2 linked regions of the Homo sapiens genome follow. The protein of the gene in region 2 interacts with the protein of the main gene of each other region in a pairwise test. Each region holds a gene or a part of one and is shown on either strand. Other genes may lie near its edges.

What was found.
Region 1: the proteins of PPP3CC (region 2) and SPATA33 interact in binary tests that used the Homo sapiens proteins (3 or more experiments, as listed by UniProt).

Annotation. Positions count from the first base shown.
Region 1 is NC_000016.10:89,653,602-89,667,616, reverse strand, and holds the start of SPATA33 (spermatogenesis-associated protein 33), read right to left. Parts: upstream 9,782-14,015; 5' UTR 9,706-9,781; coding exon 9,669-9,705; intron 9,550-9,668; exon of another isoform or gene 9,370-9,549; coding exon 9,196-9,369; coding exon of another isoform or gene 9,166-9,195; intron 7,078-9,165; coding exon of another isoform or gene 7,067-7,077; exon of another isoform or gene 6,109-7,066; intron 1-6,108. Other genes in the region: CHMP1A (charged multivesicular body protein 1a), read left to right, coding at 10,029-10,035. UniProt on the Homo sapiens protein: Plays an important role in sperm motility and male fertility. Required for sperm midpiece flexibility and for the localization of sperm calcineurin to the mitochondria. Promotes mitophagy as well as acts as an autophagy mediator in male germline cells.
Region 2 is NC_000008.11:22,517,822-22,533,317, reverse strand, and holds part of PPP3CC (serine/threonine-protein phosphatase 2B catalytic subunit gamma isoform), read right to left. Parts: intron 10,828-15,496; coding exon 10,750-10,827; intron 10,664-10,749; coding exon 10,569-10,663; intron 9,676-10,568; exon of another isoform or gene 9,562-9,675; intron 5,927-9,561; coding exon 5,801-5,926; intron 4,813-5,800; coding exon 4,741-4,812; intron 2,017-4,740; coding exon of another isoform or gene 1,990-2,016; intron 1,094-1,989; coding exon 1,012-1,093; intron 398-1,011; coding exon 300-397; intron 1-299. UniProt on the Homo sapiens protein: Calcium-dependent, calmodulin-stimulated protein phosphatase which plays an essential role in the transduction of intracellular Ca(2+)-mediated signals. Dephosphorylates and activates transcription factor NFATC1.

The sequences.
Region 1 (14,015 bases), on a different chromosome or scaffold from region 2:
ATCATGGCTCACTGAAGCCTCAACTTCCTGGGCTCAAATGATCCTCCCACTTCAGCCTTCCAAGTAGCTGGGACCACCAGCACGCACCACTGTGGGCGGCAAGTCACCCAGGTGCCGAGGCAAGAGACCGAGGGCACGAGCTGTTCCAGTGTAATAAAATATATAAAATAAGAATAGTTATACTAGATCTAGATCACAGACATGATTATATATGAATATCATTAATTAATTTGTAGCAATTACTCTTTATTCCAATATTATAATAATCCTCGCTCTACAATCATAACCTAGGAAAAACCAGGTCATACAGAGACAGGAGCTGGGGGGACATGGTGAGAAGTGACCAGAAGACAAGAGTGTGAGCCTTTTGTTATGCCCAGACAGGGCCACCAGAGGGCTCCTTGGTCTAGTGGTAACGCCAGCGTCTGGTAGGACGCCCGTTGCCAAGCAGACCATGGTCTAGCAGTAGCGTCAGTGTCAAGGAAAAACACCCACTACTTAGCAGACCAGGAAAGGGAGTCTCCCTTTCCCCAGGGGAGTTTAGAGAAAACTCTGCTCCTCCACCTCTTGTGGAGGGCCTGACATCAGTCAGGCTTGCCCGCAGTTATCCAGAGGCCTAATCGTCTCCCTGTGATGCTGTGCTTCAGTGGTCACGCTCCTAGTCCACCTTCATGTTCCATCCTGTACACCTGGCTCTGCCTTTTAGATAGCAGTAGCAAATTAGTGAAAGTACTAAAAGTCTCTGATATGCTGAAATAACGGCGTAAGCTGTCTCTCTGTCTCCTCTCTCTCTGCCTTGGCTGCCAGGCAGGGAAGGGCCCCCTGTCCAGTGGACACATGACCCACATGACCTCACCTATCATTGGAGATGGCTCACACTCCTAACCCTGCCCCTTTGTCTTGTATCCAATAAATATCAGTGCAGCCTGGCATTTGGGGCCACTACCGGTCTCCACGGCTTGGTGGTAGTGGTCCCCCGGGCCCAGCTGTCTTTTATCTCTTTGCCTTGTGTCTTTATTTCTACGCTCTCTCATCTCCGCACATGGGGAGAAAACCCACCGACCCTGTGGGGCTGGACCCTACACACCACCACACCCACCTAATTTTGAAATTTTTTGTAGAGACACGGTTTTGCCATGTTGCCCAGGCTGGTCTCGAACTCTCAGGCTCAAGTTATTCTCCCACTTCACCCTCCCAAAGCGCTGGGATTACAGCAGCCATGAACCACTGTGCCGGCCATTTTCTTCCATTTTTAGAGAAGGGTCTCACTCTGTAGCCCAGGAAGGAGCGCAGTGGCTATTCGTGGATGTGATCATAGCAAACTACAGTCCTAACCTCCCAGGCCCAAGTGATCCTCGGACCTCACTGAGTAGCTGGAACCACAGATCCCACCTATGGGACCATATATTCCCACATCACCATATCTGGCTTTTTTTTACTCTAACCTACTTGAGTATCAGAGGGCCCGACCCCCTCATGCCTCTGGTTTTCCAGATGTTTCCTACTGCTTTCATTTTTATTCATTTATTTATTTTGAGATGGATTCTCACTCTTGTCGCCCAGGCTGGAGTGCAGTGGCACAATTTTGGCTCACTACAACCTCTACCTCCCAGGTTCAAGTGATTCTCCTGCCCCAGCCTCCCCAAGTAGCTGGCACTACAGGCACCCATCACCACGCCTAGCTAATTTTTGTATTTTTAGTAGAGATGGGCTTTCATCATGTTGGCCAGGCTGGTCTTGAACTCCTGACCTCAAGTGATCCACCTGCCTCGGCCTCCAAAGTGCCGGGATTACAGGCGTGAATCACTACACTTGGCCTCATTTTTATTCTTTAGATGAACCTTTGAATAATCTGCTCATATTCCCAAAAGATCTTTTGTGTTTTGACTTGGTGTTGACTGATTTTACAGAAGTTAACGTATTTACACTATTGAAATTTTCTAGTCTAAAACAAGACTTATTTCATCTTCCTCAAAGTATAGTTTCTTCATTTAGAAATATTAGGCCAGACGCAGTGGCTCACGCCTGTAATCCCAGCACCTTGGGAGGCCGATGCGGGCGGATCACGAGGTCAGGAAATTAAGACCATTCTGGTTAACATAGTGAAACCCCATCTCTACTTAAAAAAAAAAAAAATACAAAAAATTAGCCAGGCGTGGTGGCAGGCACCTGTAGTCCCAGCTATGCGGGAGGCTGAGACAGGAGAATGGCATGAACCCGGGAGGCGGAGCTTGCAGTGAGCAGAGATGCACCATTGCAGTCCAGCCTGGGTGGCGACAGAGCAAGACTCCATCTCAAAAAAAAAAAGAAATATTAATCTTGGGCCAGGTGCGGTGGCTCACGCCTGTAATCCCAGCACCTTGGGAGGCTGAAGCAGGCAGATTGCTTGGCCTCTGGAGTTCGAGACCAGCCTGGGCAACATGACAAAACCGCATCTCTACAAAAACTACAAAAAATAGCTGGGGGTGGTGGCGTGCACTGTGGCCCCAGCTACTCAGGGAGCTGAGGTGGGAGAATCGTTTGAGCCCAGAACGTCAAGAGTGCAATGAGCCAAGATGGTGCCACTGCACTCCAGCCTGGGTGAGACCATCTCAGAAACAAAACAGAAAGAATAAATGTGACTCTTCTCAAGGTTCTTGGTACATATTGTGTGTACTTCTATTGCTGCACAACAAATCACCACCAACTTCAGGGCTGAAACCAGCACATCCACTTATCATCTTACTGCATTCGTCGTCAGGGGTGCAGGTGCAGCGTGGCTGGGACGCAGGCTGAATTCCAGGGGCCGGCTGCACTGCATTCTCATGAGGAGCTGGAGGACCCTCTTCTAAGCCCATTCTGGTTGGAGGCAGAATTTATTCCCGGTTCAAGGAATGAAGTTCCCGTTTTCTCGCTGCCCTAAAAAGCCTCTGACACTTTTACTGTCTGGCTTCCCTGATCAGGTCGGGCCCTAAAGAGCCTCTGACACTTTTACTGTCTGGCTTCCCTGATCAGGTCGGGCCCTAAAGAGCCTCTGACACTTTTACTGTCTGGCTTCCCTGATCAGGTCGGGCCCTAAAGAGCCTCTGACACTTTTACTGTCTGGCTTCCCTGATCAGGTCGGGCCCATCCAGGATCATCTCGCATTTTGATGACGTCAAACTCAATGGATGAGTGAGCTAATCGCAGGAGAGACACACCTCCCTCTTCCTCATTCCACCCACACTCGAGGGGAGGGTTACACATGGCTGTTTCCCAGGGGCAGGGATCGTGTGGGCTGTCTTGAGTCCTGCCACCTTGTTACCAAACCGCCTTCCAGGAAGATGTGTGCCTCCACAGCAACGTGTCCGAGCCCCTGATCCAGAGTCAACTGATATTCTTTGGCCTCTCATAGATGTAAATATTTTTTTGAGCTTATCATTTGTTCTACAATTGTTTATAAGAGTTTGGGGAGAGGTTTAACATTTTAACGCAGTCAAATTCTTCAATATGTGTACTGTCTTTCCTTGCTAGGAAGCATAAATAGGGTCTTACTCTGTCGCCGGGGCTGGAGGGCAGTGGCACGATCTTGGCTCACTGCAGCCCCAACCTCATGGGGTCAAGGGATCCTCCTATCTCAGGCCCCTGATTAGTTGGGGCTACAGGCACACTCCACTACACCCAGCTAATTCTTGTCTTTTTTGTAAAAATCAGGTTTCACCATGTTGCCCAGGCTGGTCTTGAACTTCTGGGCTCAAGTGATCTGCCTGCCTAGGCTTCCCAAAGTTCTGAAATTACAGGCGTGAGCCACTGTGCTTGGCTCCCAAAGCGAACGTTTTATATAACTATAGTACCATTATCGACACGAGGAAATGGACTCCGGTACTATGAGTGTATGTACAGCTACGCCATTTAATCAATCACCACCAAAACCAACAATCCCATCTTCCTCCTGCTGCCCTTCAGACACACCCACTCCCTACCCCAACCCCAAAGCCCTGCCCTTCACAGACCCCCTCACTCCCTACCCCAACGCCAAGGCCCTAGCAATCAACAATCTGTCCTCCCTGTCTATAATTTTGTCATTCAGAGAATGTTACAGAAATGGAATCACGGCCGGGTATGGTGGCTCACGCCTGTAATCCTAGCATTTCAGGAGGCCGAGGCAAGCGGATCACCTGAGATCGGGAGTTTGAGGCAAGCGGATCACCTGAGGTCGGGAGTTTGAGACCAGCCTGACCAACATGGAGAAACCCCATCGCTACTAAAAATACAAAGATTAGCTGGGCATGGTGGCGCATGCCTGTAGTCCCAGCTACTCCGGAGGCCGAGGTAGAATTGCTTGAACCCGGGAGACCAAGGTTGCAGTGAGCCAAGATCGTGCCATTTGCACTCCAGCCTAAAAAAAAAAAAAAAAGAAATGGAATCATACAGCATGTGACCTTCTGGGATTGGCTTTTTTCACTCAGCATGGTATTTTTTAATAGCCAATAGAAGTGTTCCATTTCTCTTCTTTTTCAAAATTTTCTTGCAATTAAGTATACTCTACCTTCATGAAAATGTTACAGGCCGGGCGTGGTGGCTCACACCTGTAACACTGGCACTTTGGGAGGCTGAGGCGGGTGGTTCACAAAGTCAGGAGTTTGAGACCAGCCTGACCAACATGGTGAAACCCCGTCTCTACTAAAAATACAAAAATTACCCAGGCATGGTGGCGCACACCTGTAGTCTCAGCTACTCGGGAGGCTGAGGCAGAAGAATTGCTTGAACCCGGGAGGCGGAAGTCACAATGAGCCAAGATTGTGCCACTGCACTCCAGCCTGGGCAACAGAGCAAGACTCCATCTCAAAACAAACAAACAACAAAACGTCACAAAAGTGTTCAAACAGGCTGGGCGTGGTGGCTCACGCCTGTGATCCCAGCGCTCTGGGAGGCCAGGTGCGGTGGCTCACGCCTGTGATCTCAGCACTTTGGGAGGCCGAGGCGGGTGGATCAGCTGAAGCCAGGAGTTTGAGGCCAGCCTAGCCAACGTGGCGAAACCTCATCTCTACTAAAAATACAAAAAAAATTAGCTGGGCGTCATGGCGGGCGCCTGTAATCCCAGCTACTTGGGAGGCTGAGGCAGGAGAATCACTTGAACTTGGGAGGCGGAGGCTACAGTGAGTTGAGACCCGAGATCATGCCATTGCACTCCAGCCTGGGCAACAAGAAGGAAACTCCATTTCAAAAAAAAAAAAAAGTGTTCAAACACACAAGAAAATAGAATAGTGAATGAGCACCTGCACCTATAGAGCACTCAGCTTCAATCAGTATTTTGTTATCTTGTTCTTTCTTCGTTTTTTTCCTGAGTATCTTTTTTTTTTTTGAGATGGAGTCTCACTCCATTGCCCAGGCTGGAGTGCAGTGGGATGATCGTGGCTCACTGCAACCTCTGCTTCCTGGGTTCCAGCTATTCTCTTGCTTCAGCCTCCAAAGTAGTTGGAATTACAGGTGTGCACCACCACACCCAGCTAATTTTTTTGTATTTTTTGTAGAGACAGGGTTTCACCATGTTGGCCATGCTGGTCTCGAACTCCTGACCTCAAGTGATCCACCCGTCTCGGCCTCCCAAAGTGCTGGGATGACAGCATGAGCCACCATGCCTGGCATTCTGAGTATCTTTAAGGAATTTCAGACATATGATTTTACCCATAAATGTTGCAGTGTATTTATTAGATAGGGATTGTGTTTTAGCGTAACTATAATAGCATTCCCACATCTAAGAAAATTAACACGGACTCATCCTCAAATACCCAATCTGACTGTCTCAGGAGTGACGGAGCCCAGGTCTGAGAAAATTAACACTGACTCATCCTCAGATACCCCATCTGACTGTCTCAGGCGTGACTGAGCCCAGGTCTAGGTCGCTCAGATTTCCTTCTAACATCCCCTCCTTTTTTTTCAAGTTCTTTATTTGTGGTAGAATTTCCAACATTGTGGAATAAGGTGACTGTAAATCTGTGATGTTAGTTCTCTATAATGTTTGTATGTTTGTGAATTTTGTAATGCAAAAATTTAAGCATATACAGAAGTAGTAGGGGTAACAGTATAATACATCTATCTGTATTAGTCCGTTTTCATGCTGCTAATAAAGACATACCAGAGACTGAATAATTTACACAGGAAGAAGGTTTAATGGACTTACAGTTCCACATGGCTGGGGACGCCTCACAATCACGGCGGAAGGTAGGGAGGAGCGAGTCACATCTTACATGGATGGCAGCAGGCAGAGAGAGAGCTTATGCAGGAAACTCCCGTTTTTAAAACCATCGGATCTCGTGACACTCATTCACTATCACGAAAACAGCACAGGAAAGACCTGCCCCCATAATTCAATCACCTCCCACCCAGTTCCTCCCACATGTGGGAATTCAAAATGAGATTTGGGTGAGGACACAGCCAAGCCACATCAATATCCTAACAGCTGCCACAGTGATTAACTTATGGCCAAACTTTCTCCCCATCATGGCCCTTCTGTTCTTCTCACTACTGCTTCATAGTAACTTACCCCAAACCTCAGCAGTTTAAAACGATTTTCTTTTCTCTGGATTTTATGGGTTCAGGACACGTTTGGCAGGACAGGTATCACGTGTGGTTGTCCAGGCAGTTGGAGGCATGTGAAGACTCACTGAGACGTACAGGGAAGCTCTTGGGGCTGGACACTGATGCTGGCTCCCCCTGAGGTGCATGCCCCAAGCTGAGAAGACTCAAGGTTCCAGCCAGAGCCTGGAATCACTAAAGGCTTGTTTGCTCACAGGTCTGGCTCCTGGGCTGGAAGGGCTTAGGGACCAGGACTACTAAACTGCAGTGCTTCCCATGTTCAGATTCAGGTCGAAAACCATTTCCATCACCCTCCAAAGTCCTCTTGTGCTCAGCTGTGGCCGGCTCCCATTTCTGCCCAGCAACCACTCATCTGCTTCTCTCTGTAAATGTGCCTTTTCTGGACATTCCATGGAAAGGGAACTGCAACATGAGTGGTCTTTCCTCTGGCTTGTCTCACTCAGTGTCCCACCTTTGGGACTCCTTCACGGTGTGGCAAGGGAGTCAGCAGCCTGCTCCTCACTGTCGCTCAGCCCGTCACTGCATGGAGAGCGTGCACACTTCATTTTATCTGCTGAAACTCTGTTCTCACTCTTGCTCTGCTGTTTTCCCTTCATGTCCACCTTCCTCCCCCACCCTCTGGTGTGACAGACACTGCTGGGGCCCTTCCAACAGGCGGTCCTCCTTCCCCCACTTCCGTTACTGGCAGAGGTCCTGCCCACTCCCATGCTTCACAGCTCCCTCCAGCCCCTGGTGAATTTGCACCATTGAATGAGTCCTGCAGAGGCTGGGCAGGCGAAGCCTTCCTGGGAAAGGTTTCCTTGCTAATATGAAGCAAGGAGCAATGCCTTTGCAGTAGATGCAGTCCTGCCTGCGTGTGGGGGGCTGTACACTCATCGGGGGCTGTGGACACTGAGAGTGGTCAAGAAGAGACACGCAAAGTCTTTGATGTCACTGTTGTGCTAACAAGCCAACCTGGAAGCTCCACCTCTGACCCTTCATTCGTGAGACATTAAATCCCTGTGTTAAAGCTGCGTTTAGTGAGCTTTTCTGTAACTTTCAGCTAAAAGCACCGTGACAGACAGGTAGCATTTTCCAAACTGCCACCCAAGGGTGATGCTATTCCTGCAGGGTTCCATCCTCCGGTGGGGGGTTGCGCCCTCCTGTGAGGGGTTCCACCCTCCAGTGGGAGGTTCCAAAGTTGGGAATTCAAATCCAAGTCTTTCTTCCAAGTCCAAGGCCCAGAGCCTCCTACTTTCAGCCCTTGATCCTACAAGCGTGTCAGTGTGAAGCAGTCCAGGCCCAGCTCCTCTGCCTAGCAGGCCAGTCATCCCCCTGACATTCTTTCTTGTCTGACCCGAGTGGTTCTCTCCTTATTATTTTTTTTTTTTTCTGAGACAGAGTCTCACTCTGTAGCCCAGGCTGGAGTGCAGTGGTGCGATCTCGCTCACCACTACTTCTGCCTCCCGGGTCCCGGTTCAAGGTTCGAGCAATTCTCCTGCCTCAGCCTCCTGAGTAGCTGGGATTACAGGCACATGCCACCACGCCCAGCTAATTTTTGTATTTTTAGTAGAGACAGGGTTTCACCACGTTGGCCAGGCTGGTCTTGAACTCCTGACCTTAAGTGATCCACACGCCTCGGCCTCCCAAAGTGCTGGGATTACAGGCGTGAGCCACTGCGCCCAGCCGAGTGGTTCATTCTTGTGATGAAACTTAAAACACCTCCTCCTGGCACAGGCCCCCAATCTCCTCGGACGGCAGGCTCTGCGGGTTCTCCCTGCCTGACCCTTCTGCAATTCCTACTGCAAGGCCTTGCTGGCTCCCACTGGGCCACAGCAATGGGTCTCTGACCGGGCCACCTCCCCTGCGAACTGGCTTCCCCTGTTGGTAGGCACAGACCTCATCATGCCGCCCTTGTTTTTTATTTTTAAATATTTATTTTTTGTAGAGACAGGGTCTCACTATGTTGCCCAAGCTGGTCTTGAACTCCTGGGCTCAAAAGATCCTCCTGCCTCGGCCAAATAACTGGGAGGACAGGTGTGAACTACCGCCCCAGGCAGCACCTCCGTTGTTTAAAATATTTAACGCTTCCAGCTCCACGTGGTAAAACTGATGGAAAACTTTGTATTCTAGCTTCTTCCTACTTTTGGGGCCTCATCTTCCCCACACACACCCAAAGGTCTGGCCACACTAGGCTGTTATAAAAGACACCTTTGTCGCACCCAGGTTCTACTCCTCGGTCACCCTCCGCAATGTACTTATCCCCACAGCCCTCGGAGAGCTACAGTCCAGCCTGGGACGGCCTCCCAATGCTCTGTTCCAGTGTGCGGAGGCTCAGGGATTCTCAGTGGCACCAAGATACCCAGCCCTCGAGGAGAACCTCAGGTGAGACACACGCACACTGCCCCAGCCCCTCGACCACCTGGTACGCACTTATCACTCGGGAACTGACCTACATTTTCATTAAACTTATGTTTTCAACTAAGATTTCTGGATATTTACCTCCTACATAAAGTTCCCAAAACAAACCAGTTTCATCTTTACGGCGCGTGCCTGCTACTAGTGTCCATCCGGTAGGGTCTTACAGTAGGCTCCTCACCCCAGCCCCAGATCCTCCAAGCCACTGACCTCGCTTCGCTCCCTCCCGCCGTCTCCTACCTTCCAGCGAAGCTGCCGGCGGCGGGTGCTTGGCTGTCCCGGCCCCCGGGTGGAGGCTGTCCACAGGCTTCTCCGACTCCCTGTCTGCCTGCCTGGCTTCCTGGGAATGCTTCTCCATCAACTTCTCCTTAGATTTTGGAACTGAATAGGTGGATCCCTTCTTTTGCTCCTCACCTGAAATATATGGATCATCCGTTAGACCCGGGACTTACCGAATGCAGGGCAGTGGGTCCCATCGTCTTCAGTCGCCTGCGTGGGTCCAGAATAAGCTGGCTTCAAGTCTCGAGTCTCCGCGTTTCCGTAACCGCCTCAGGCGGGAAACGCGCCGTCCGTGGCGGACTCGGCGGCAGGAACGGTTCGCACCGGGCCGAGCCTGGCGCCTGCGCTCACACCGCCCCGCCCAGCCCAGCCCCGCCCTGGGCCCGCGCCCAGGGGCGGAGACGCGGGGAGCCCAGCGCCTGCGCCTCCTTTACCTTTCCTGGGTTTCTCTTTGCTTTTGGAAAGGCCCATGGGTGAGCCCACCGCCCCCTCCGACGCAAGCCCGGGTCCCCACACCTCCGCGGCCGCGGAGCCGGGAGCGACTCACAAAAGGTCCTCGCGCCAGCGGCGTGCGTCACCATGGCGACCGCGCGCCGCGCAGCCGCGCCCCGCCCCTCTGGCGGGACCGGCCACCATCCTCTCGCGAGAGCATCCCGTGCGACCGGAAGTGGGGCGGCGACCCCGGAAGTCCCCGCCGGGTGCAGCTTGGTCGGTTCGATCGCCGCCGGGACCTGACACCGCCCGGAGTTGGCGTCCCTTCTCCCTCTCCGAGTGCTGCTCCTGTCATTGTGGCCATGGACGGTAAGAGGTCGCGGCCGTCCTCCGGGGACTCGCGCGCGGGGCGGGGCCGCTTCTCCCACTGGCGTGGGCTCCGCCCACCTGGGGCCGCGGGCAGGACTCAGGAGAGCTCGGGCCTCGACCGTCGATCCCCCGGGACCCCATCCCCAGGGCCTCGACCACCGACCTGGGACCCCTTTTCCCGGTCGTCGTCCCCCGATCCCCGACCCGGACCCCATCCCCAGGGCCTCGACCACCGACCTGGGACCCCTTTTCCCGAGCCTCGTCCCCCGATACCCGACCCGGAACCCCTTCCCCAGGGCCTAGACCACCAACCCGGGACCCCTTTTCCCGGGCCTCGACCCTCGATCCCCGACCCGGAACCCCTTCCCCAGGGCCTCTACCACCGACCCGGGACCCCTTCTCCCGGGCCTCGACCCCCGACCACCGACCGGGACCCTTCCCAGGCCCCCGACCCCCAACCCGAGATCCTTTACCCCGGGCCTCGACCCTCGACCCGGGACCCCTCCCCCCAGGCCTCGATCCCCGACCCCCGATTCGGGACCCCTTCCCCGGGGCCTCCATCCCCAAATCTCAACCCGGTATGCCTTCCCCGGGGCCTCGACCTCTGACCCCCAACCATGGACCCGGGACCTAGACTCCCGACCCAGGACCCCTTGCCCAGGGCCTGGACCCCCGACCACCGACCCAGGACCCTTTCCCCCGCCCCTGGCACTCCTCAGCGTCAGGCGCCCTTTCCCGCCAGCTCGGTAGGGGGGACTGTGCGATGCCTGTTCGGCCTTTCGGGACTTGGAATGTCGGGTCAGAGGGCACCAGAAAAAGTGACAGTTGCACCCCCTGCCCCAAACAGCATCACTGCAAATCAGAAGGACTCAGACAGAAAGCGCTCCCTGAGTGCCAGGCCCTGGTCACAGCAGCTCTTTGCGTCCATTCTCCATGTGGGGAAGCAGAGGTTTGAGCAGGAGCCAGCACAAGCGTTTCTGTGCTCAATGGGTCGCCCTAATTCTTACCTTCTACATCTGGGGCTAGCCGGCTGTGTGCTCAGGGATACCAAAGAACAGGAAGAATCTGGCAAAATGAAGTCCTATGTTTGCTGAAACATCGTTGGGCTGGTGTGATGGGCAGGCTTTTAAAAATACTTTTTGAAGGGCTGGGCGCGGTGGCTCACGCCTGTAATCCCAGCACTTTGGGAGGCCGAGGCCGGCGGATCGCAAGGTCAGGAGATCGAGACCATCCTGGCTAACACAGTGAAACCCCATCTCTACTAGAAATACAAAAATATTAGCCAGGCGTGGTGGCGGGTGCCTGTAGTCCCAGCTACTCGGGAGGCTGAGGCAGGAGAATGGCGTGAACCCGGGAGGCGGAGCTTGCAGTGAGCCGAGATCGCGCCACTTCACTCCAGCCTGGGCGACAGAGCGAGACTCCGTCTCAAAAAAAATTCTTTTAGTTAGAAGTGTGAAAAGCTATAGTACCACCGTGTCATCATCATGAAGGAAATGTGTAGAGATTTTCTGCCCTGAGAGAAGATGAAAGATAACATCTACCTCCCGCCACAAAAAATATGCTGGCCAGGCCGGGTGTGGTGGCTCAGGCCTGTAACCCCAGCACTCTGGGAGGCCGGGCGCGGTGGCTCACGGCTGTAATTCCAGCACTTTGGGAGGCCGGATGTGGTGGCTCACGCCTGTAACCCCAACACTTTGGGAGGCCGAGGTTGGTTGATCACCTGAGGTCAGGAGTTTGAGACCAGCCTGGCCAACATGGTGAAACCCCGTCTCTTCTAAAAATACAAAAATTAGCTGGGCCTGGTGGCGTGCACGTGTAATTCTAACTACTTGGGAGGCTGAGACAGGAGAATCGCTTAAACCTGGGAGGCAGAGGTTGCAGTGAGCCAAGATGGTGCCGTTGCACTCTAGCCTGGGTGATAGAGTGAGACTCCGTCTCAAAAAAAAAAAAGAAAAATTGTGGCTTTTCACTCCACAGCTCACTCAACTCTTTTGAGGGGACTTCTCTCAAGCCCATGTCAGATTTCCTCAGAGTCAGATTTTGCCTTAGCTGGGTTTTTGTGCTGCCACACACGGCTGGAAGAGAAAGCTGAGGTGAGGAAAGCTGAGGTGAGGGAAAGCTGAGGTGAGGAAAGCTGAGGTGAGGAGAGCTGAGGTGAGGGAAAGCTGAGGTGAGGGAAAGCTGAGGTGAGGGAAAGCTGAGGTGAGGGAAAGCTGAGATGAGGAGGGCGGTTTGGCCAGCATCCCACAGTGAGTTGGGTGGGACGGCCCGCCTGGCCTGCACTGTGCCATCTGGGTCAGGCTGGCTGTTTTCCAGTCACAGATAACCTTGGCCGTGACCACACCTGAACTGATAGATGACAGGTTGAACTTGGCCTTGACCACGCCTGCACTGACAGGCGATAGATTGAACGATGCCCAGAGCTTTCTGGAACCCCGGGAGATCTCATCTTGGAGCCTTGGTGTGCATTTGTGAACACTCAGTAACCTCATTCTTTTACAGGCTCCATTTCCTCGTTGTGGCTAGTGTGGTAAAGCCCTTTCAGGAATCTGGGGTCAGGGTCGCTCTCCAAATTTAGCAGTTGAATGAATTGAGATCAATCCTACTTTTTAAAAAAAATATTTTTTCTTTTTTTTTTTGAGACGGAGTCTTGCACTGTTGCCCAGGCTGGAGTGCAGTGGCGCAATCTCGGCTCACTGCAAGCTCTGCCTCCCGGGTTCACGCCATTCTCCTGCCTCAGCCTCCTGAGTAGCTGGGACTACAGGCGCCCGCCACCACGCCTGGCTAATTTTTTGTATTTTTTGGTAGAGACGGGCTTTTACCGTGTTAGCCAGGATGGTCTCGATCTCCTGACCTCATGTTCCGCCGGCCTCGGCCTCCCAAAGTGCTGGGATTACAGGCGTGAGCCACCGCACCCGGCAAAAAAATATATATTTTTCTAATAGAGATGAGGTCTGACTATATTCCCTAGGCTGGTCTGGAACTCCTGACCTCAAGTGATCTGCCCGCCTCAGCCTCCCAGAGTGCTGTGATTACAGGCGTGAGCGACTGTACCGCTGGAAATCAGCTCTTTGATGTCTAAGAGTTACCACCTTGCTATTTTTATCCATTTACCTTTGAGGAGAAAGAGTCTGTAAAAAGTAAACTGTCAAGTACTGAACTTTTAAATTGGCCCAGGCTGGCCTCAAACCCTGGCTTTAAGTGATCCACTGGCCTCGGCACCCCCAGAGTGCTGGGATTACAGGTGAACTTTTAAATTGGGAAAGAATCCCAAGGGACATTTGCAAAGTTGCATTAATTATAAACCACCATCTTTTGGATTCTAACCATGGCCAAAAGATGCTGCGTCCATGACCTCTTCTGTCCTCACACTAACCCTTTGAGATTGGCTGGTACCACCCTCATGTTCCCAACAAGGAAACAGGGAGGGAGGGTCTGCATTTGCTGGGCCCTGTGGCTAGCAAGGAGCCAGGGCTGGCACACGAATCTGTCTCGTGCCTCCCCTGTTGGGGGGGGCTCCCCGAAGGCCCCAGGCAGGTGTGGTCTGTGTGTGTGTTCTAGCTCCTGGTGTCTAGAAGGAACCTAGTGAGTCCTGCCTGCCAGAAGTGTAACGTCCCATTCCCAATCCTCAAACCATTAATTCCCTCTTTCTTTGCAGATACCCTGTTCCAGTTGAAGGTATGTACCGAATGGCCGTTCACCCCAGCCCTGTTCTGGTGAGGACAGATAGTATAAGCCACGCTCACTCAGAGCCACAGAAACAGTCGGGCAGATTATATAACAGTTGAGTGACCGCCACACAGGGCTCAGACTGCTGACCAAGGAGGGGATTATTGAGCCACCTTGGTGACATATTAGCTCTTTTCTTATCTGAGGCTAAGTGGAGGCAGATCCTTAGGGTCATCCATGAAAGCCATGAAAGAAATAGTGTTATCTTTTTTTTTTTTTTTTTTTTTTTTGAGACGGCGTCTCACTCCGTC
Region 2 (15,496 bases):
ACTGGCTTTTTAAGGTTAGTACTTTTTGTGTCCTACTTAAGGACTCTGTCTACCCCAGTGTCTACTCTCCATACTTTCTTCTTGTTTTACTGTTTTGCTTTTTACACTGAAGTTATAATAAGCCATTCTGATTTAGGTTTTCTGTATGGAGGGAAGTAGGGGTGAAGATTCATTTCCCCGCTTATGGTATAACCAACTGCTCTCGTGGCATTTTCTGAGGAAAGCCCCCATTTGTAAGTGTGTGCTGACTGTTAGGTAACGGGAGCACACCTTCCATGGAGGAGCACTCTCATACTCACCTGTCTCGATAGTCTGCTTGCCTCCTGAGAGGACGCCCAGAGGGAGTGTGCCTGTGGGAGTCAGGCCCTTGAGAGTCAGCACACTCTCACTTTCTTGCCTGCAAAGGGAGACCAAACCCTGGGTTAATGCCCGAGAACTCTCCATTCAGCAACTTAAAGATATTGAAGGAAGTGAAGAAAGACAGCAGAGATGGAAGATAGGTTCTCCTACCTCCTACGCCTTCCCTGACTCAAAGAAAGGGATGTTTTCCACAAATATTTTCATTTTAAACAATCAGCCAGTTCTTGTTTTTCAATTAGAAGTGTTTAACAGCCAGGCACTGTTCTAACATTTCCCATATTGTATCCCATTTAATACACCTAACAACCTGTGCGCTAGGGCCTATTATTACTTTACAGGCAAGGAAACTAAGGCACAGAGATGAAACCCAAGATCACACAGGTAAGAAGAGGTAGAGCCAGAATTTGAACACAGGCAATCGGGTTGGAAAGTCCACACTAAACCACTACATTCACTACATCTAAGCTACTAACAAATCAATGTTTGCTGGAACATTTTTAGTCGCTTAAACATGTTCATTGAATTTGCACTCAACCTAAAGACCTGCAGTTTCAATACTACATTCCAATTATAAAAAAACTGTTCTGAATTCGACGTCTAATTTACTCTCAAAATGCCTTTAATCCGCACTGTAATGACAGACATCCTTACCGAAGAATTGAAAAGACCCGTGCCATCTTCCCAATGGCTCTGATCTTATTCCTGATGATCTCCTTACGAACTGTAGTGCTTCCTTAGAGAATACAAAGAATAAGTAAGTTAAAGGGATGTGTTAATAGGCTGCCTTTAAAAAATTCAGGATGAAGTGTCTTAAGTTAAAGAAACAATTGTTTTTAAAAAACAGAAATGAAGGCTTAAGTTTGTTTAAACAAACAAAAATCTCAGGAAGTTCTAAGGAGCAAGAGAAAAAATGACTCAGAAGATAAAAAGATGAAGTAAAAAATGAGAGGCCACAAAAAAGACAGACTGGGTGGATCTATGAGAGGTAGGAACTTATTTGTGGTTGTGAAACGTAGAGCACAGCAAAGAATAAAACACACACATACATAAACAAACCTCACAAAGAAAGCTGCTACAGCAAAGATGTCTTTTGATAATGCTGTGGGCCACCTTAGGGTGCAGGGTTCGGCCTGCCAAATGGCAAGTGATCATTCCAGCAGCTGTCTTCTGTATGTAAACACAACACCCAGCTAGCTCTCCTGAACTTAGTGAGGGCTGCTTTCATTCTATAAGCTTCACTTATATTAGTGAGTTATTGCCTCACGATACTACTTACAACTGTGCACTATTTTAAAAAGCAACAACAGAAAAAGTTAACTTAAGACTTTATGGCTTTTTCTTATCTAAGATTCTGAAAATAGCCCACACATGAGAAGCCAAGGTCCAGCATGCACCAGGTGACTACAGTCAAAAGTCAGAAAAAGAAACATGGCCTCTCCTTCCTCACATCCAACCCTCAGCACCCTGCCAGATCACGCAACAGGTCCAGAGAAAACATATACATTAAAACTGAAGGGGCGGATGGAGAGCCTTTCTGAAATTATTCAACTACCAATTTTAAGTCTAACCAATAGACTATGGTGGGACAGAGAGTAAGCATTAAGCTCTTAGCACAGTTTAGTCGGATACCTTTCTGATAGCTTGGAATGTAGTGATCTTCAGGGAGAAGAAACACCAAGAAACAAGGAGATGAAGACAGAAATATGAGAAGAGAAATTTATGTTTACATGGAAAAGAGAAAAAAAAATCAAAGTGAAATGCAATGAGAGAAACAGGCTATTATCTTTACCAGCTCATAAGAGATATCCTTGGAATCATGATACAACATTAAATTGCAAATTTATTTTGTCAGTAGTTTCTTCCATTTCTTAAAAGTTTATGGTTTTACATTAATTCACATCTATGAGCATCCAATATTTTCTAACCCCACAGATCATGAAAATAACATTAAACAAAGATATTATTTGCAGAATAAATGATGCCAAAAACAAGGAACAAAAACGGAGGACAGAACAGTTTACAAATCTCTTCACAGGAATAGTATGTTTTTTTGTTTAATGGATTCTATAGCTTCTCTTTCAGGGGATATAATTGTTCTTCCTTTTTTTTTTTTTTTTTTTTTTTTTTTGAGATGAGTCTCGCTCTGTCGCCAGGCTGGAGTGCAGTAGTGCGATCTTGGCTCACTGCAACCTCCGCCTCTCAGGTTCAAGCAATTCTCCTGCCTCAGCCTCCCGAGTAGCTGGGACTACAGGTGTGTGCCACCACACCCCAGCTAATTTTTGTATTTTTAGTAGAGATGGGGTTTCACCATGTTGGCCAGCATGGTGTCGATCTCCTGACCTCATGATCCACCTGCCTCAGCCTCCCAAAGTGCTGAGATTACAGGCGTGAGCCACTATGCCCGGCCCATTCTTCCTTTTTATTTATTTATTTATTTATTTATTTATTTTTATGTTTGTGGTGGGAAAGAATAGGAAATATATGTGTTTCTGTTTGTTTGTTTGAGACAGGGTCTCCCTCTGTTGGCCAGGCTAGAGTGTAGTGGCAAGATCTCCGCTCATTGCAACCTCTGCCTCCCAGGTTCAAGTAATCCTCCCACCTCAGGCCCCCAAGTAGCTGGGACCAGAAGCACTCGCCATCACATCTGGTTGATTTCTGCATTTTTAGTAGAGATGGGGTTTCACCATGTTGCCCAGGGGGATATTCGGTTTTTCTTTTGTTTTTCACTTGGCTGCACTATTTCCTCAAGAAGAACTGGTTCCTTGTAGTCATCTCCTATACCATAAATAAAAACACTCGCAAGCTATCTTGCATATGCTGTTGATCTTCAGTGCGGAACCTGAAGCATGAGTGCAGAACCTGAAGCATGAGAGTGTATGGTAATTTCCTCTAGATTCCCAAAGGGAGTTGTGTTTTCTCCACGATGGAGATGGTTTATCCTCACAGTTAAGGGAACCACCTTAGCACAGAGCCTGGATAGGATGAGGCCGGTTTGTGCTTGGATGACCACCACTTTTCCAGAATCTCTTGCATTGTCAGACAAGTCAGGACCTACCTTTATAATCAAACCTCCCACAGCACACTAGGAAAAAAAGTACTTGGCTACATATATAATAAAATGTTACTGTATAAAAAGATCCCTCACACACCAATAAGAAAAAAATCAAAATGGGGCTGGGCATGGTGGCTCATGCTTGTTAATCCCAGCTCTTTGGGAGACCGAGGCAGGCAGACCACTTTGAGCTCAGGAGTTCCAGACTAGCCTGGGCAACATGGCGAAACCCCATCTATACTAAAAATACAAAAATTAGCTGGTCATGGTGGCACGCGCCTATAATCCCAGCTACTCGTGAGGCTAAGGCAGGAGAATCGCTTGAACTCGGGAGGTGAAGGTTGCAGTGAGCAGAGATCGCGCCACTGCACTCCAGCCTGGGTGACAGAACAACACTCTGTCTCAAAAAAAGGATAGAAGATATGAATTGACAAGTCACAAAAGAGAGATAAACATTGCCAACAAACACAAGAAAAAATTGTCCATTAGTCTCATAAAAATATAAACTAAAAATTTAATTAAAAACTTAGTAACACCAGACTATAACAAGTATCATAAACAGTATTGGAGACAGCACTGTGACTATGCATCCTGCAAAATGTAAAGTGGTACAGCCTTTCTAGAGGCTGTATCAGAAATTTCTATCTGTATCAGAATTGTAATTTTAAGTACTAATTGACACAGATATTCAATTTCTACAAATTCATCCTATGGAAATAATCAAGAAGTGTTATTCCTGATTTTCTAATATTGCTTTACTTCCTTTCATCTGACATATTTATTTACTGTTTTTCCTCCCTACACTAGCAAATAAGCTTATTGAGAGCAAGGACCTAAACAATACAGTACTTGGTATATATCAAGCATGTAATAAATATTGGTTAAGAGAATGTGCACATTTTTATCTAAACAAATGTTCAAAACTATATGGGTTTTGTCGGCAAAAACTTGGGAAAAACTCCAATAACCAACACCACCGGGATTAGTTACAACACTGATCAACATGGACAACTACAGATCCATTAGAAACTAGTCTACAAAGAAACTCCACAAAAATAGTGTACTACAGAGGAAAGCTATGTGCAAAGATAAAAGACAATTAACACAGTATACATTAAGATGTTAACTGTGGATATCTATAAGATGATGGGATTATGGGTGACTTTTTTTCCTTATTTATGGTTTCTCGTATTTTTCAAATTTTATTTTTCTACAATGAACTAACTTTATTTTTAATAAGACAAAGAAAATCATTCAAAATAAACTAAAACAACTAAAACCAAAACCAAACCTCTTTCTAGTTTTAGTTCAAAGGAGGAAAAGTTTACCTTCTGCTTCATCATCAGAAATCAGTTCGTCATCAGAGCATATGTTGAGCACATTTACCAGCATCTCTGTGACTAAGTAAGACAAAATAATCCAAAATTTACGCGATTAATGAGGTACTTTCTCTAAAATAATGTGGATATCTAAATAAACACACATGTTAAGTAAGCATAAGCAAAAATTATTTATCATTATGTTAGTAAGAATAGCTATAAAAAGTAGCATAAATGTAAACTTTCAGGTTTAAAAAGAATTTGGGTAGATTACTTGCTCCAGTAAAAGTCTGGAGTCTTTGAAGATCTATTGCCTAATTACTTGATTTTACCGGATTGCTGTTCAGAGCTTCTTCCCACACTGATACACACGTGAGAAAATTTTTTTCCCACTTTACAAAGTTAAGCCAACAGGCCTACGTCCAACAGGCTTAGCTAATTTGAGTAGCTGTACAAATAAAATTGTAAGGACAATAAATTCTGTTTAAATCTCTTCAGTACTGAAGAAATCTGAGGGAATGACAAGTAACTATGTTATTTTAACATCTTGATCATAGTAGGTCAGCTACTTTAAATTGATATTTACAATAAAAAAACCATAATATATTAAAATTTAAGAACCAATTACATGCCATTTACAAATCTATGTAGAGGCTGGGCACGGTGGCTCACACCTGTAATCCCAGCACTTTGGGAGGCTGAGGAGGGCGGATCACTTAAGGTCAGGAGTTTGAGACCAGCCTGGCCAATATGGTGAAACCCTGTCTCTACTAAAATGCAAAAATTAGCCGGGTGCAGTGGCACGTGCCTATAATCCCAGCTCCTCAGAAGGCTGAGGCAGGAGAATTGCTTGAACCTGGGAGGCGGAGGTTGTAGTTAGCTGAGATCGTGCCACTGCACTCCAGCCTGGGTGACAGAGCGAGACTCCATCTCAGAAAAAAAAAAAAAAAATCTATGTAGAGAACAAACAAAATTAGAAAACATTTCTGAATCATGGAGGGGCTCATGCAAATATAAGGTATGCTCAGTCACCAAACAACTGATGAGACATGTGCTTTAGTTCTCTTACCTTTTTCCCCAACAAAAGGCAAAGACCATGTGAAAACATCCATAAAGTTTGGAAGCCAGTAGGGGTGTGGAGAACAGTTAAACTGCCTGATATTCATGACATTGTTTTCATATTTCAACACAGCAGCTAAAAAGGAAAAAAGCAAGAAAATCTGGCACAGAGGAACATGGCATGGCAAGTGGTATGCTTTGTACAGCTGTGTACCTGCTACACAGAATTCGAGAACTTTCCATTTGTAAAGTCAGGACTTGACTAGGTAAAGGGCAGATGGAAAATTTTAAAGCCTTTTATTCAGTTCATTCTCTTAAGAATTATTCCAAGGAACAAAGTTACCTGAAGAGCTCATATAATAAAAGTACAAAAGAAACTGAAACTTTGGAGTCACTGCACAGTAACTATCTATATAAACCTCAAGATCCACGTGAGGAAAATTTCCCCATAATTTCCTTTTATAGGCCAAATGGTTATAATTACAACTCTCCTTTGAAGGCAAAAATTACTCATTAAATGGACACAGCCTGTTTTGCTAGTCATTAGCCAGAGTCAAAGATTGTATACACTCTCTGGGAGTTTATATATTGCAGTTATCAACTCATACTGGAAGATACAAATGGCAAACTTGGAGCAATTTACAATTAAATGTTCAAAATTAGATTAAGTCATCTCTGTATTCAATATAGCGGATTTTAAAATTGCCGATTTCTCCAATACACAGCAGTGTATTGCCAGCATGCTATGTTTAATATTAACCATTCAGATAGTCGCACACATACTTTGATGCCAAACTGATTTTCTTTATATTTTGAAAGTCTTAAAATCCAATTCCTTAGCCTTTATCACCAGCAATGTTGTTTGCACTATTCTCTTAATTATTCTGTGGTCATAAAATAAAACAGGGTGTAACAGTTCTCCAGAAATGACAGATATAGGTCACGTCCTCATTCCTGTTTCTTTGCTACAGGATAATCTAGTGTTCTTAAAATTTAAGTTATTGAATGTCTAAAATGTACACCATATATTATTAAGAAAATAAATTAAAATATAGTTTCTAGCACTTAAAAAGCCTAACACTGGCTATGATGTACATGTTCCATTATTTTCACGTGTATGTATTTTATTTAGTTTAGGTAAATATGTCATATATCATTATTCAACAACTCCCTCAATTTCTACCCAGGAAAAAGAAGTGGGAGGTGAGTCTCAACAGTGAATGACTGGAAACAAGAGCTTATAAAACTGCTTTTGGGTGTGTTCCCAGTGGACAGAAGAAAACAAGAATAAGAATCTTTAAAAATCATGATTAAAGGTCTTTCGTGTAACTAGTGGAACTAGGAAATACCTGTAGATACCAAGAAGTCTAAAGAATATGAAAGAGCACTCCTAGCACTTTGGGAGGCCGAGGTGGGCAGATTGCCTGAGCTCAGGAGATTGAGACCAGCCTGGGCAACATGGTAAAACCCCGTCTCTACTAAAATAAAAAAAATTAGCCAGGCGTGGCGACGTGCACCTGTAGTCCCAGCTACTCGGGAGGCTGAGGCGGGAGAATTGCTTGAACCCGGGAGGCAGAGGTTGTAGTGAGCCAAGACCGCACCACTGCACTCCAGCCTGGGCAACACAGTGAGACTCTGTCTCTGAAAAAAAAAAAATAATATGAAAGAGGCCAGGTGTGGTGGCACACACTTGTAATACCAGCACTTTGGGAGGCCGAGGCAGGAGGACTGCTTAAGCTCAGGAGTTTGAGACCAGTCTGGGCAACATAACGAGACCCTATCTCTATAAAAAATATTTTAAAATTAGCCAGGTGTAGCGGCATGCACCTGTGGTCCCAGCTAGTTGGGAGGCTGAGGTGGGAGGATCACTTGAGCCCAGGAAGTCGAGGCTGCAGTGAATCAAGTTCCTGCCACTGTGCTCCAACCTAAGTGACAGAGACCGAGAGAAAGAGAGAGAGAGAGAAAGAAAGAGAGAGAGAGAGAGGGAGAGAAAGAAAGAAAGAAAGAAAGAAAGAAAGAAAGAAAGAAAGAAAGAAGAAAAGGAAGCAGAAAGAAAAAGAAAGAAAAGAAAGAGAGAGAGAAAGAGAGAGAAAAGAAAAGAGAGAAAGAGAAAGAAGAGCAACAGTAGAAGAAAAGGAAGAAGAAAAAGAATAATAGAGTTCCCTTTTTCAGAAAAGAAGGCACTTGTATGGGGAGTAACTGAGTACCCCCAGGGACTGTTTCAAATGCCACATTTTCTGCCTTTTTCCTTCTAAAATGCCTAAGAAACAACCAATGAAAATAAGACTGTTTTGAGATAAAAGTTACTAATTATGTCAAAGCCGACAGAATACTCAGGTAGAATGAACTGTGGCTTTTACTTTTTTTTTTATTTTTTAGAGACAGGGTCTTGCTCTATTGCCTGGCTGGAATGCAGTGGTGTGATCACAGCTCACTGCAGCCTCGAACTACTGGACTCAAAGGATCCTACTGCCTCAGCCTCCTGAGTAGCTAGGACTATAGGCATGCTCCACCTTGCCTGGCTAACTTTTAAATTTTTCTTTGTAAAGATGGGGTCACATTTTGCTGCCCAGGCTGGTCTTGAATTCTAGGCCTCAAGTGATCCTCCCCTTGGCCTCCCAAAGTGCTGAGATTACAGGCATGAGCCACTGTGCCTGGCCAGGACTGTGATGTTAAAAGTTTGCTAAAGAAATAATCAAGAACAAAACCAGGTTAGATTGAGACAAAAAACAAGCTAGCAGTGAGTGAGCTGTATAGTGCCTGCTGACTTAGGTGGCGTGTTTCAGCTTGGCACACTGATAAATCCATTGAGCAATCAATAGATACTCTTTTTGATGAAGTTAAAAAAGAAAGTGAGAAAGAAACACCTTCATTACAAATAGGAGATCTAGGGCCACAAGAGTCCTTGAAGACGTTTAACAACACAAACAGTCCACACCATTGATAAGAGAATAAATAAGAATAAAACCTAAGTTGCTAATATACTGGAAATATCAGGAAAAAGGAAATAACAAATGAACTTAGGGAGAAGCAGAGCATTGTAGGACAGATAAGGCTCAGAGAAGAATGCTAAGTTAAATGAAAACATAAGACTAGGACAGAACTTAAGTTAAAGACATGCTTTTTAAAATAGACAAGTCACTGGAGGACACACTAAAATGACTGACCCAAATCGGATTTAAATGAGATGTGCCATTCCATGGTTTACTTTTAAATAGAGTAAATATTAATTATATTTTGGCCATCTTTGAAACTTATCTCCCCAACTGCATATACAAGGTATAACTATAAAGTAATGAGACTTAAGAAACCACCAGCTACAAACACACCAGACCTTTTTATCAGATGAGTGTGGTCCTTTGATATTATCACATCAGGTACAATAACAGTAAAATCTGTATTATTATAGTAATTTATATTTTGAACAACACTTTAATATCCATTTTCCTTATTCCAACTTATCTTCAACAACCCCATATGACAGATATTTTAAAGATGAGGCTCAGAGAAGTATCTTGTTAAATGTGACACACTTAAAAGTGAAGCAGGACTAGACTGACTCCTTGCTTTGTGTTCTTTTCAGCACAACTTGTTGCCTTACCATATAATTAATCCAGAGATGCTGCCATTACTCAAAACGTTTTTGGAACTCCTCTTTTGGAAGTGCCTCCAGAGCCACTGTATCAGCAACACGAGAAAAACCAGTCTCATTACCTTATAATCATACCTTGTTTCTGACCCCAAATGGTATCATCTAGCTTGATCACTCACCTTATTTATCAGTCTTGACTCCGAATGACTTTTGGCTGTCCAAAAATCAAATCCACCCTCAAAGGACGAAGATTTCCCATCATTGAGGATAATCAAAAGAATGTGTCGCAGACTCTGAAGGCAATGCCAAAAGAGGAGTTCCAAAAATGTTTTTGAACAAGGACAGCATTGTTGGAATAGGTGTGTAGCCTCCCAAGGTAACTACTTTGAAGGGACAATACTCATTTGGATATGTTTGTTCTGGCATGTTTATTTTCAAAGTCCTATTAATTTATAGTCATACTTTATAAACAACAAAATAGTTACAGAAATATGAAGTTTTTAGTAGGACCACTGCCTCGATAGAAAACTTATAAACTATTAATCATAAAAGTTTTAAATTAAAAAAAAGACTTTAACAGGATAAAGTCTTAGAAGTAAAATTTCTGGAACAAAAGGCATGTATATATCCATTCTTCTTTTTTCATATGGGAAACTGAAGATTAGAAAGATAATGTGACTCACTCAAAGTCACAGTATTCGTTTCTGGCAGGGTTTAAACTAAAAATGAAGGTTTTTTTTTGACTTTGTACACTAGGTCACTCTACCTAGACCATATCTCAAGAAAAACAAAAATAGTTTAATAATTCACAAAGATTAAAATACCAATGGTGACTTTGAGATACTGTTATAAACACATTAAATTCACCAAAACCAATAATTTATGCTAACTATTCTGGCATGAGCCTGAAGCAATTTATTCTTCTTATACTTTGATTCTGTAGTATCAATCTGACCTATTATGATCATTATTTATACTCACAAAGAAGCCAGTAATCCTTAGGAGATAAAGACCAAGCAGCAGCATAAATTCTAAATTTCTTGGCCTTTGTTTCAACTAAGACCCCTTTTTTTCTTATTTAAAATTTATGTTTTAAAATGACACAAACACACATACGTACATACAATTAAACCAGAGCTCACGTTTACTCATAAATTCAAACTCAAATATTGCTGGATTCCTTTACCTTTATTGTTATAGACATCTAGGTAATTGGGGGCAGAGAAAATTGTAATAAGTGATGGAAAGCCTGTGGCTTGGCTCTTCCTGTACATTCGATACCTGAAAAAGAGATGAAAGTCCATCTGTCTGCATATTAAATGCAAAGACTCTGCAGCGATATTTGGTACAATTTTAATGTAACTTACCCAGCATCTTGGGCTTCATGGGCTCTGATAATTGATAGTAAATTATTGTTCTGCAAAAATTCACAAACTGCAGGGTAACTGGAAAAGAAAATTAGAAAACATAAATCCAGAATTAAAACAATTTTTTTTAATAGGAAGATGGGGAAAAGTCAAGGTGATATTAGCTGATTTTGTTTCAAAACTACAAGTATTACACACTACTGAAATTTTATGAATAGCTTAGTACTCATCATTCTGTTTCTCTATTTCACTAATATACTTCACTACAGATCAAACATGAAAACAATAGATAATCCTACAATAGAAAGAGCTCCTCCATCTCATCTTTTAATTTTTTTGTCTTAATCCATAACAATACAACACCAAAACTTTTATCAGTGTCTTGATATTACAAAGTACAACAGTAGTGTGTGTGTGTGTGTGTGTGTGCGTGTGTGTGTAGTAGATGCTAAAAATTCAACACATACTTTTCTTCAATTGTCAAATTGTTACAGAAATAAAAGAATATACTTACAGCTTCACAGGTAATATAAACACCAAGATAATATTATGCAGGAATACATATATACATATATATGTATATATATAGGTTTGTTTTTTTTTTTGAGACGGAGTCTTGCTCTGTCGCCCAGGCTGGAGTGCAGTGGTGCAATCTCGGCTCACTGCAAGCTTATGCAGGAATATTTTAGGAGCAGATGTAAATATTTTAGCCAACCATATTCTAAAAAAAGATACAATATTCTCATATACTCCTAAAATATTCTTTTCATACTATTACCTCTCTGAATGACAAATACCTGATAGGAAGAACTGGAGTATACAAAATTAACCTGGAATTACTTAGGCATTAATTATTTAGTTTATTTTTAAAATCTTTGTTTCTCATTATGCTCATTAGAACAAATTTACTTTTAAAGTAGGTTGTAGGTGACGTAAGCAAGATAGCAAAAGAGAATGTCCCCAGCCCTGGTCCTCCTACAGAAACAATAGTTTGGAAGCCATCCATGGCCATAAGTGCCATTGTAAGAACCTTAGGATTGAGGTAGGTGGTTATGAAACCTTGGTGGAGCCCAAGACTAGGAAGGGCTGCTTGGAGAAGGCAGGCCCACTGACCTTTCAGCTACAGACCCAGAATCAGCCTGTCCCTTGTAAACCCGGCTCCAGTCCCACTTGTCTGCAGTCCTACCACCAGCCTCATCCATCCTGGGAAGGAACCATGTCTGTTGATGCCCCTAGTAACAGATCCACCAACCAGACCCAACTGCAGACTCAAAGCAGCACTCTGACCTGGCTCCAGCCCTGCTCTACTGTGGCCAAGAGGAAGTCCTGCCTTAACAGGGGCCTTGTGGAAATCATGCCTGTCCATTCCTCTGGTAAAAGGGCTGCTGATTGGACCCAAACATAAACCCAAACCAGCCTGGGACCCAGCTTGGGTCCCACCCTATTGAGTTCCAGAGACAGCTCTCCCCATCCATGGGACATACTTGTCCATGCCCCTAGTGGTACGCCCACTGACTGTGAACCCTAATGTAGCCCCATAATCTAGCTTCAGCCCTGCTTAATCACAATACCACAGGCAATCCCATCAACCCAGGGACTCAATAGGAGAAGGTATTTACTTGGCGAACGAGTCCATAAAAACTGGAAGGCCCCTGCTCCTTCAAATGCATAGACTCCATTGCAAGGCTATATGAATTATAAAGAACCAGGCAAAAATGACACCACCAAAGGAAACTAATAAACCTCTAGTAACTGGCCCTAAATAAATAGAGATGTATGAATTGCATGACAAAGAATCCAAAATAATCATCTTAAAGAAGCTCAATGAACTACAACTAAACAAAATCAGGAAAGCAAATAAATGAATAAAGAGAGATGTTTAATAAAGAAACAGAAACCATAAAAAAGAAGCAAATAGAAATCCTGGAGCTGAAGAATACAATGACTCAACTGAAAAGCTCAAGAGACAGCTTCAACAGCAGACTCAGGCAGAAGAAAAGAACTGGGAAACTTAAAAGACAGGTCATTTGAAATGATAGCATTAGAGGGACAAAAAGAAAAAAGAATAAAAAAGAATGTGGAAAGTATACAGGACTTATGGGACAACATCAAGTGAAAATAATACAGGCATATGGGAGTTAAGGAGAAGAAAAAGGGGCAGAAAGCTTCTTATTTTTAAAAACTAAAGGCTAACAGTTTAACAAATCTAGGGAGGAAAAGGGACATTTCAATTCATGAAGCCCAAAGGTCTCCAAATAAGTTAAACACCAAGACTCATTATAATTAAGTTGTTAAAACTCAAAAAGAAAAAATCTGAAAGCAGCAAGAGAAAACCTACTTGTCATATAATATACAAGGAAGCTTCTATAAGACTATCAGTGAATTTCTCAGCTGAAACCTTGCAGGCCAGGAAAGCGGGAGATAATATATTCAAAGTACTAAAAGAAAGAAAAAAAAACCTGCCAACCAGGAATACTTTACTCATCAAAATTGCCCTTTAAGAATGAAGGAGAGATAAAGACTTTTCCAGACAAACAAAAACTGGAGTTTGTCATGACTACACCAGCCTTATGAGAGCAACTAAAGGAAGTTCAAGTAGAAACTAAAAGATGCAGCTGGCCACAGTGGCTCGTGCCTGTAATCCCAGCACTCTGGGAAGCTGAGGAAGGCAGATCACTTGAGGCCAGGAGTTAGAGACCAGCCTGGCCAACATGGTGAAACCCCATCTCTACTAAAAATATAAAAAATTAGCCAGGTGTGGTGGTGTGTGCCTGTAGTCCCAGCTACTCAGGAGGCTGAGGTAGGAGAATCACTTGAACCCGGGAGGCAGAGGCTGCAGTGAGCCAAGATCGCACCACTGCACTCCAGCCTAGGTGACAGAGCAAGACCCTGTCTCAAAAATAAAGTAAAACCTGAAATTAATTACATTAGGTGTGTGAATGGGGACTAAAGTGTAGAGTTTCTATACGTCATTGAAAGTAATTTCTTCTCAGCGTAAGACAGAGTGCTATAACTATAAAATGTTTGATGCAAACCCGATGAACAAAAAAGCACAGTAGATACACAAAAGATAAAAAGAACCAAAATACCCCACTACAAAAATAAAAATCAAATCACAAAGAGAAAAAGAGAGGAATAGTAGAACCACAAAACAGAAAGCAACCAACAAAATGGTAATAGTAAGTCCTTACCTATCAATCATTACTTTAACTCTCAAATCAAAAGATATAGTATGAGTGAATGGATGAAAACAAGACCCAACTACATGCTGTCTACAAAAGACTCACTTTAGATTTAAAGACACACATAAGCTGAAAGTAAAAGGGTAGAGAAAGGTATTCCATGCAAGTAAGTAACCGGAAGAGAACATGAGTGGCTAAACTTTTATCAGACAAAATAAACTTTAAGTCAGAAATCATCACAAGAGGGAACAAAAGTCATTATATAATGATAAAAGGGTCAATACAACAGAAAGATGTAACAATTATAAATATATATGTGCCCAACATCAAAGCACCTAAATATATAAAGCAACAACAGATCTGAAGGCAAACATTGACAGTAATAAAATAATAGCAAGTAGGACGGGCACAGTGGCTCACACCTGTAATCCCAGCACTTTGGGAGGCTGAGGTGGGTGGATCACCTGAGGTCAGGAGTTCGAAACCAGCCTGGCCAACATGGTGAAACTCCGTCTCTACTAAAAATACAAAAATTAGCTGGGCGTGATGGTGCATGCCTGTAATCCCAGCTACTTGGGAGGCTGAGGCAGGAGAATTGCTTGAACCCAGGAAGCGGAGGTTGCAGTGAGCCGAGGTCGCGCCACTATACTCCAGCCTGGGCGACAGAGCGAGACTCCATCTCAAAATAATAATAATAATAGCAAGTAACTTCAATACATCATTCTCTGTAATGGATAAATCATCCAGTCAGAAATCAATAAGCAAACAACAGAACTGAACAACACTATGAACCCAATGGACCTAATACGCATATACAAAACTTTTTGCCAAATAACAGAAGAATAGAATTCTTCCCAAGTGTACACAGAATATTCTTTAGGCTATATAATCACAAAGAAGTATCAACAAACTTAAGAAGATGTAAATCGTCCTAAGTATCTTTTCCCACCATAATGGAATGAAACTAGAAATCAATAACTTAAGAAAACAGGAAAATTCACAAATACATAGAAACTACACACCACACTTTTGAACAACTATTGTGTCAAAGAGGAAATCAAAAAGGAATTTTAAAATTATCTCTAGATAGGTCAGGAGTTCGAGACCAGCCTAAGCAACACAGCAAGACCTCATCTCCTCTAAAAATTTTAAAAACAATTAGCTGGGCATGGCGGTACATCCTGTAGTCCCAGCTACTCAGGAGGCTGAGGCAGGAGGACTGCTTGAGCCCAGGAGTTCAAGGTTGCAGTGAGGTATCATTGTGCCACTGCATTGAGCCTGGGTGACAGAGCAAAACATCCTATCTAAAAAAAAAAAAACCTCAAGATAAATGAAAACAAAAATATACATATCAAAATGTATGGGATGCAGCAAAAGCAGTACCTACAGGAAAGTTTATAGTAATAAATGCCGATTTAAAAAACAAAAAAGATCTGAATTAAACAACCTTATTTTACACTTCAAGAAACTAGAAAAAGGAGAATCAAATAAGCCCAAAGTAAGCAGAAGAAAGGAAAGTTTAGGGCAGAAATGAATCAAATAGAGAATAGAAAAACAACAGAAAA